2 separate regions of the Homo sapiens genome follow, and region 1 is linked to region 2. Evidence: fine-mapped expression QTL. A gene starts in region 2. The other region holds a variant in brackets. All regions are shown on one strand. Distances are from middle to middle. Region 1 overlaps C10orf90 (chromosome 10 open reading frame 90). Region 2 holds the start of C10orf90 (chromosome 10 open reading frame 90).

The links. PIP is the estimated chance that this variant, and not a neighbour inherited with it, causes the effect.
Region 1: its variant is fine-mapped to the expression of C10orf90 in sigmoid colon (GTEx, PIP 0.98).

The regions. Positions count from the first base shown.
Region 1 is chr10:126,559,664-126,564,055 of GRCh38, reverse strand. The region is part of intron 2 of C10orf90 (chromosome 10 open reading frame 90); the gene reads left to right. Among named protein-coding and RNA genes, the nearest start is that of C10orf90, 110 kb to the left of the region's middle. RefSeq lists an enhancer at 1,939-2,695. The variant A/T (reference allele first, on the strand shown) is at 2,294.
Region 2 is chr10:126,668,377-126,672,768 of GRCh38, reverse strand. C10orf90 (chromosome 10 open reading frame 90) reads left to right here and starts at 2,076. Exons shown (of 10, transcript NM_001350921.2): 1 at 2,076-2,528. The coding sequence starts at 2,289. RefSeq lists a silencer at 1-50.

The DNA.
Region 1 (4,392 bases), 110 kb after region 2:
CACACCTGGGGTGGGATGGGGACTACGGGCATCCAGTGGGTGGAGGCCACGGATGCTGCTAACTTCCCACAAGGCACAGGACAGCCCTCATGCAGAGACTGCTCTGGCCCCAGGGGTCAGCAGTGCTGAGATTGAGAACGCCTGTTCTCAGCTTCCGTGGTCATGGCCTTTACTCATCTGGCCCTGCACAGGACTGTGAGCCACTTGAAGGCAGGGCTGCTACTGGCTGATCCTCGGTCGGTGTTGGTTAATGAGTGCAGGATGTCCATCAGCTGCCGCCGCCAATTCCTCTGGCCTCAGGACCAAATAGTTTCACAGTGGGCAAATGAGCAAACGCTGGAGGCAGGATACCATGGGTTGTGTTCCTATGTTTAGTGCTCACAGATCCCTTTGCTGAGCAGGCAGACAGGATATTTGCTCATCATAGCCACCTCTATCACAGCCATCAATGTGGATTGGGCTCACGGCCACCAGGTGGTCCACACATTTTCACACAAATAATCCCCTTGAATCCTCACACAAACCCTCTAAGGATTTGACTGTGATTGTCCTTTTGTTATAGATAGAAAAACAGGCTCCAGAGGTCAGAGCCCTTCTTTCCCACGCTGCACACCCAGTGACCACAGGAGCTTTGCATGTGGCCATTTATGGCTCTGGTTAAACCCTGATCAAGCTAAGGCAGGGCTTGGCCTGGGCTGCCCAGGATCTATTTCACTGCATCTTGGGGGTAAAAGCTGGGGTCTCAAGGCTCATTCTGTCACAGGCCAGATGCGGTGTGAGGGTGGGGGTGGCAGGCGTGCGGTGGACGAGTGGCCCCTCTTTAGCCCCACGCTACTGCAGTGCCAATGAACTCCCCTCTTGGGGCCCAAGGCAGTGAGTGGACGTGCCCAGCATGTGCTGGTCACTTTAAACAACAACCAGCTGGAGTGCGGGTGGGGAATTTTGCCCCGAGTTGTAGCATTTGCCACTTTCTGTGGTGTAAATACTCCGGGGCTGGTTTCAAGTCATCAATGTGACATCATGTGCATGTGTGATGTCACCTGCACAGCCATGGAAAGCAATGTACGTGGGTCCCTCCGCCCAGCCCATGAGAGTGGGTGGCAGCATGCCACTGCCGGTGGCTGGGAGAAGTGAGTTCAGTCAGACACCCTTCCTCTGGGAATCTTGGTCTCTGCGCTGTGTGCGAGTGCAGCCTCAGGTTGGCAGATGGGGTTATGTGCATTTGGTAAATTGTGAAAGAAGGGGCTCGCCTGATGGTTTTACTGTCCTGGTTGGGGAGCTCTGGCAGGCTCTGCTCCCTGGATATTGCTGACTGTCAGGTGGGTTATAGGCCTCTTAGCAGCAGGCTATAGGAGAATTGTCTGTAACCACACAACTGGTGCCCATTAAAACTGATTGTGCCTTCAGAATCCAAAATAGTCCTATCCCAGGGAAGGGAGAGGAACTGCTCATTGAGCGTCTGCAGATTGCTCTGTGCCCGTTTGACAGGTGGGACAATCTGCATATCAGCAAGGTCACTTGGGCCACCCAGGGTGCCACAGGTAGCAATTAATGGAGACTGGATTTCCAGCTGGCTTGTCTGGGACTGTTCTGTCTCATGCTATCTGCAGGAATGAGGGATTCTGTTAAGAGGAATGTCTCATTGCCTGTGTGGTTAGCAGGTTCGTCTTGGTGAGGGAAGAAGGCAGAGTGTTGGTTGTGGATGTCCACTCTAGGGAGAGGCCCAGCCTTTGGACTTGGCTTCCATACAGTCTAAGGGAGGGCAGGGGGTAAGGGAGGGCAGGGGGTGGCTAGGCAAATCAGTTTGGATGTGGGAAGTTGGCAGATGCTAGCACGTGCACGCAGCAGTGAGATGAGGGCCGCATTCTCCCTCCATTAGGGACCCTCTGGGCCATGCTCATAGAGGTTCTGGATAAACTAACGCCGGCAGGAAGCTGCTGGGCCTGCAGTGGCCTCTGGGCAGCCTGTCGCCACTTGGGCAGAGGGGAGAGAACGCTGTCAGCACTTCAGCGGGAGGGCGGCACCCAGGACTCTCCAGCTGAGGTGCTGAAGCCAAAATGAACGCTTCATGTCAGGCCCAAGATCTTTCCTCAGTTTTCTAATTAGGAAGACCTTTCTGGTCATAGCTTTTGCATCTCTAATTCATCTCTCAGTGGGGGGTTCTTTCTAACTTAACTTCCAAATTTACACCTCTCCTCTCTTCCTGTGCTCCTGTCTGGAGGTGTTGACTGGCGCTCAGCAGGCCACCCGGGGCCCGGGGAAAGGGGCCTGCTCCCTCTGTGTCAGGCACACA[A/T]CTGTCCACTGTTTGCCTGTCCTCTCTGTTCCCTGATTCTCTCTGCTTGGAATGCAGTCATTGTTTCTGTGAGAGAGTCCCTTGTTTAATTTGCAGCTGCAGTTCCAGGAGATGACATTTCTCAGTCACATCCAAACCTCATTGCACTGCGGACTTTCTGTGGCTCCTGCAGCACGGAGAGTGAAAATCTGCTTTCGTTTTTGTCATCGGAATTCCACAGTCCTCCAACCCGATTCTGGGAGCAAATTTTAATGAATTCAGCAGAAACTTGTGTAGCAGTGATAAAATGTAATTGCCTACAATTTCACACCCACAGTCTCCTCTGTGAGCTGCAGAATTTCAGCCAGCTTGCCGCTTTGCAATTTCATCTCCATGGAATCACTCTCTTCTAAGGTATTCAAGCCTCACGTGTGCTTGAATGAAATGTGTGGTGAATTTTCATCATGATACCAAGAGCAGAAGCAGTCAGCAGTGCTATTAAGATTAATTAGAGGTTGAGGGCCCACACTTTGGAAACAGCGGCAGGTTATGAATTATATTCTTGGTGTACTTTCTAAAGATTCTTCCAGAAGTCTCCTGATTTTTTTCCAGCTGTTATGGTACCTTTGGCTGCACATGGTGACTGAATTGTTTGTCCACTCTGACCACCTCTTTGCGAGCAGGTGGTAAAAACCAGTGACAGGAAGTGGAGGGATGCATTGTACTTGTGTCTTAAATTACCTGTGAGAGTTTGGTTTCATCCAAACAGCTAGAGGGATGTACTCCCAACATAGGCTTTGTAGGGTGAATAGATACTGTCCTAGAAGATCAGGTTCCCTGATTCTGTAAGACCTCTGAGCTAAGCATGTTTTCTACATTTAAAATGGATTAAAAGAAGCATAATCTTTTATGCCATGCAAAAATTATACAAAATCCACGTTTCAATGTCCAGAAATAAAATTCTGTTGGAATGCATCCACGCCCATTGGTTGACATATCATCCAGGGAAGGTCTCACACCATGGTGCAGAGTTGAGTAGCAGCAACAGAGACAGCATGGCCTGCAAAGCCTATGATATTGACTCTCTGGCCCTTTCAGAAGACGTTTGCTGACCTCTAGCACAGAAGAGCAGGCGTCTCCATGGGGATGGCTTTGGTTCCTCTGCCGTCACTAAAGAAGCACCGTGCTGGGGCTCTCTTAGTAGGGTTACATTTTCGATGATGCCCATGGGGTCATTCTGGTTTGAGACCTATGCCCTCCAATGGCCCTGAAGGCCATTGTGAGTCAGGACTGGACACAGTGACGAGGCTTCCTGGTGGTGGGACAGGACTGCCCATTAAGATGAAGTCTCAGGGCCTCCAACCATGCACCGTGCGCGTCGGCAGCTTATTATTCACCATTTATCACCGTGCCTCGAACCTTCAGCAAAGTGAGAAATAGTTTGCCAATGAAGTAAAGTGGAAAATTAATTTGGTTTTCCTCCTATTGCAAGTGAATGCTGAAATTAAAAATGAAGACTCGGATCACTGGTGTGTTTTCATCTTAGGCTGAGTCTTACCCACTTACAAATCACTGAGGTTGCGGGGATTATTTCCTTCTGAAAGTAATTCTTGCTGGCCAAGGGGAACTGTCTAGTGAGATTTGTTGGGGGGAACAATGGAGCAGTTGTATAGAAATATAATATTTATTGTTAAGAGCAGATATTATAAACTGAAAATGTATAACCTTCAGGCAGCCTACCTCCACATAAGCTGGCTCTTATGAGAGGAAAGGAAAGAGGCCTAGAACTTGAAACGGCCAAATATGCAGTTCTCCGCGGTGTCTAATTTCACATTATTTATCATTTATAATGTCATGCTGCATTTTCTCTGAAACTCTTGAGGGTCTAATTTCAGTAGAATTTCCGGCAAGTATTTTGAGCATGACTAGGAGCTGTTAGTAAACACTAGGAAAAAATATTCCTGACTTGCTTGCTGAAGGAAACCCTCTGAAATAAGCTGTTATATAAAGTATCCTGACTTGGCTGGTACTTATCACATAAGAACAAGGTGAGGTTTCTTGGTTGGTTTTTTAAATGATTAGGCTTCTGCTTAGAGATGGCAGAGATAATCCAGCTTCTC
Region 2 (4,392 bases):
CTCGGGGTAGCTGATGACCAGTCCTGGTCTCGGGGTAGCTGATGACCAGTCCTGGTCTCGGGGTAGCTGATGACCAGTCCTGGTCTCGGGGTAGCTGATGACCAGTCCTGGTCTCGGGGTAGCTGATGACCAGTCCTGGTCTCGGGGTAGCTGATGACCAGTCCTGGTCTCGGGGTAGCTGATGACCAGTCCTGGTCTCGGGGTAGCTGATGACCAGTCCTGGTCTCGGGGTAGCTGATGACCAGTCCTGGTCTCGGGGTAGCTGATGACCAGTCCTGGTCTCGGGGTAGCTGATGACCAGTCCTGGTCTCGGGGTAGCTGATGACCAGTCCTGCTGGCCTCAGCATTGTCCAAGGTCCTTTAATGTGTGTAGTGGTGGAAGAAAAGACTTTATTATTTGTTATCTGCCTTGCGGGGTCTCCTGGACAGGAGCAGATAGACACAAATGGGAGCTGGTTTAAATGGCGTTTTTGGGGACACAGGGAATGACCTTCCCTGTGCCCAAACATGAAGCAGATCCCCTCTTTCCTTGGTGTCCCTGTTCAATTTTCATGTTTTTATTGCTCAAATGTCTCCCATGGCTTTCTTTATCACATTGCTTCCAAATCCAAGATGGCGCTCCATGGTGTAGCTCCCTGGGAGTTTCCAGCATGACTGTCAGGTTTGAGTCAGCCATGGATGCCATCAGTTGGGTGTTGACACTCTCTTTGACATCCTTGGGAGAGCCCCAGGCAGACCCGGGCTGTGTTCTGTTTAAGGAACCATGAACTCCACTTCACTGTGTGATCTTGAGCCAGCATTTAGTCTCTGTAGGTCTTCTACTTTAACACTCAAATGAGAATGTTGGCCTAAATGATCTCTAAAGTCTTTTCTGTCTCCTCCTTCATTGTAGTTCCCATCTTCAATACTTCCATTGCTCCGAAGGTGGAAGTTCAGCATTTTAGCCCCCAAGTCCTAGCCCTGCTGAGTGTGACATGCAAAGCTTCGACCCACAGCAGGAAGTCTCACAGTTCTGGGCTAGGACTGCAGCTCTGTTTTCAGGAAAGTTATCTGGAGGCTCTTCTTCCTTTAGCCTCTCCCATGGCTTTCAATGTGGGGCAGGTGAGTTAATTATTCAAGGGGGTGTCTCTGCCAAGAGAAAGTCACCTGTGGAGAAGAGTTCTGTGTCTGGACTTGGAGCACAGCCACGATGCTGTCATCTGCTTCCTCTTGGCACACACCCTTGATCCAAGGCTTGCCATTTTCACTTCTAAATTACTAGGTTAATAGAAATGGCATCAAAACATTAAATAAAGTGAGGCATATACCATGGATCTGCAATTCTAATTGACTTGAAATTTAGAATCTGATAATTATTAGCATTGTGTTAATCTCCGTTATCATATGTGTAGCGAACACTGTGCAAAATAATTTGGGTAGAGAACGCGCAACTGTACTTTCAAAATGATGCCTAACGTGACTCTATTCTGTGTTGTTGTTTCACTGTTTTGCTCACCAGATCCTAACAATAACCCTGTGAGTGGCAGATGGGGTATTTTCCTTCCAGTCTTCCTCCTGGTAAACTGAGACTCAGGGTGGTGAGGGAACTTCCCATGGTTGACCCAGGACCAGAGCCCCCTTCTAGGCGAGTGGACTCCACCCCCAGCCCCCACGTGATGCGCTGTTTTTCCGATGCCCTCTTGCAGCTGTTGCTGCTTCTGCGCTGGGAGTTCTCTTTTTCACTTGAATGTTTTCTTCTCCAGGGCTGAGGACGCTCTTTGTATTGGTAGGCAGCCTGCACTTGTTCCTTTCAGTCCTGGCAAGTAAAAGCAGGAATTCTAAAAAGCAACGATTATTCCTCCTAGTTCCTTTGTACAGAGCCCTGTAAATAATTTATTTGGATTTGAGGGGGTAGAGACTGACAAACATATTGAATCTCTCAGTAACTGGGTGAATTCTGTGTTCAAAACTTCAATGCAGTGGAAAGAGAAATACTTCTTTGAAATCAGAGAAGACTTTGAGTGACCCGAGAGCTCAGGCGTGAGGCTGGAAACAGACCACAACAAGAAGTTTTTTTTTTTTTTTTTTTTTTTTTGGCACGTAAAGGTCACCCCTGAGGTTCCCACATCCACATCCTTCACAAATGTAGCTGGGATATTGAGACAACTAGCTCTGGAGTTGGAAAACACTGGGACAGGTCCGAGCTGGGGCACTGCCCAAGTCCCTCCTGTTGCACTCAATACCTGGGTTAAACAAAGAAAATTGTGTTTGCCAGTCTCACTAGCTAAAGTCACAAGATACTGAGTCTCATGCAGCACTCTGGAATTCCTACAAAAACTCATCCGCAGGGGTATGCTGCCCGCTACACAGAAACGGCCGTGCATCGGACTTTCCAGATAAAAACATTTAGTACAGAGTTGAAAAACCATGTGATGGTCATGGATTTTGTGAAGAGTAACTGGTTTCCCTCCCAGAGAAGAGCCAAAGTTTGTATCATCCATATGTGTCAAGGCTTGAAGACGGCTGAGCAGACAGCCAGCAGATATGAGGTATGGCTGAGCCTGGGTGGGTGAGTGGGTACACGCTTGACTCAGAGAGAGATGGACGTGTTGCTCATCAGACAGTTCAGGTGTTTTATCTGGTCTAATAAATTAATCATTTGTGTTTGTAGACTTCCCTAAGGGATTTGGAAAAGCCTTCTTCATTTCTGAATTTATTTTAGTTTTTGAAATATGGGGGAGGGGGAAAGTATATCGGATGAAGTTAATTTACGATGACACATGTCTGCATTTACAAACTTTATTGGTGCTCCAAAGACTACTGAGTTGGGTAATTTGTATCCATGTTTAGAAACTACAGCATGTTTCTGTGAGTTAAATATTCTTAGCTCTGTATGTTTGCAATCACCTGTCTTTAAAAGCAAATTCCTACTTGTTTCCTGTTGCGTTTTGTAGGAGAATATGTATGACGTGCCTTCATCGAGTTAAAATAGAATGATTCAAGTTAGGCCAGTAAGAATGATCTTTTATTTTTGAGAGCAAGCTCTAATTTTCAAGCAGAGACAACTTTGTAAAAAAAAAAAAAAAGACAGAGAGTGAGAGAACTTTGGAGATTTAAAATGTCAAAGTGAGATAAACACATTACTCTGAAACATATTTGTATTCTGCAACTAGTATCAGCCACAAGCAGTTATCTTTTCAGAAAGTAAACACGCATGAAATCTGATCGGCTGTTTATTGTACATGGAATAAATTATGAACGACATTGTAATTGACTCCCATATAGCTCATTTACCCATCTCTTTTGATAGATGTAACATGCAAATTGCTAATGCCTTATGAAAAGGTAACCTTTCTGAATATTGATGCTGTTATTAGGAAAGCCTTCCCATGAATACTGGCAAATACGCCAGGTCTTTGTTCCCCAGGCTGGGCAGAAGGAAGCCAGCACAGTGTGGAAGGAACAGGTTTTTCAAGGTTCAAGGCTGGCTTCTTCCAGTTCCAGCCCTGGGAGTGTGAATTTCCATGTTCACAACAGAGATGTAAAGGCCACAGAAATAATGGTGCTAATTAAATTCAGTAATAGTTGTTCATTACTTCATTGCCCAATCAACTGGAGCAAAAGGTGTGCAATTAGAATATAATTGAAAGAAATCAGAGATGTCATTATTCACAAGTAATTAATCAGATGGGGACAGAATTTTATCATTGCATAATTTTCACTGAGGTTATTTTCCAGTCCTCCAGAGAGAGAAAAACTTGTTGAATTACATTATTATGCATTGTTCATAGCTTCATTTTAAACCCTATGTAGCAAATGGTAGATCTGGCATTCTCGTTTTCTTCGTATATAAAACTTCACTGATTCCTATAGCCACACTGATTAAAACAATATGAAAAAAGTACACCTTTTTAGGAGGTTACAAAAAACTTCAAATATATGACAGTCACAGCTACATTTTTTTCAGGGCCCAATACGCTGCTACTATTGACAGCCAACAACCGAGCCACTAATGTTAAAATGAATGCCAGATCCAAGCCCCCACCCACAATCAGTCTGATGGGCTGGATGGGCCTCACTGTGTCCATGACTCCCCAAGTTGTCCAGGAAGGGCCTGCCTCCTCAGCTCTAGGGCGGGCCAAGTTTGAAAACCATCAGATGGGATTTGCACCCCCTGTCCCTCTGAACTTCAAGGTCTGCTCTTGACTTTTGGTAGCAAACATTTCCGATTTTAAAATATTCCTCATCCATTAAACTATTCTTCATGTTATTCCTACCATGACATCTCAGCATTATTTAGATTAGGAAATTTAGGAAGAAGGAAACTTCCTTGCTCAATTTCCCAAGCTGAACTGCTGAGAGACCCCAATTAGCACTTCTGGGTTCTGCCTTTGGACTTGGCCCAGTGACTCC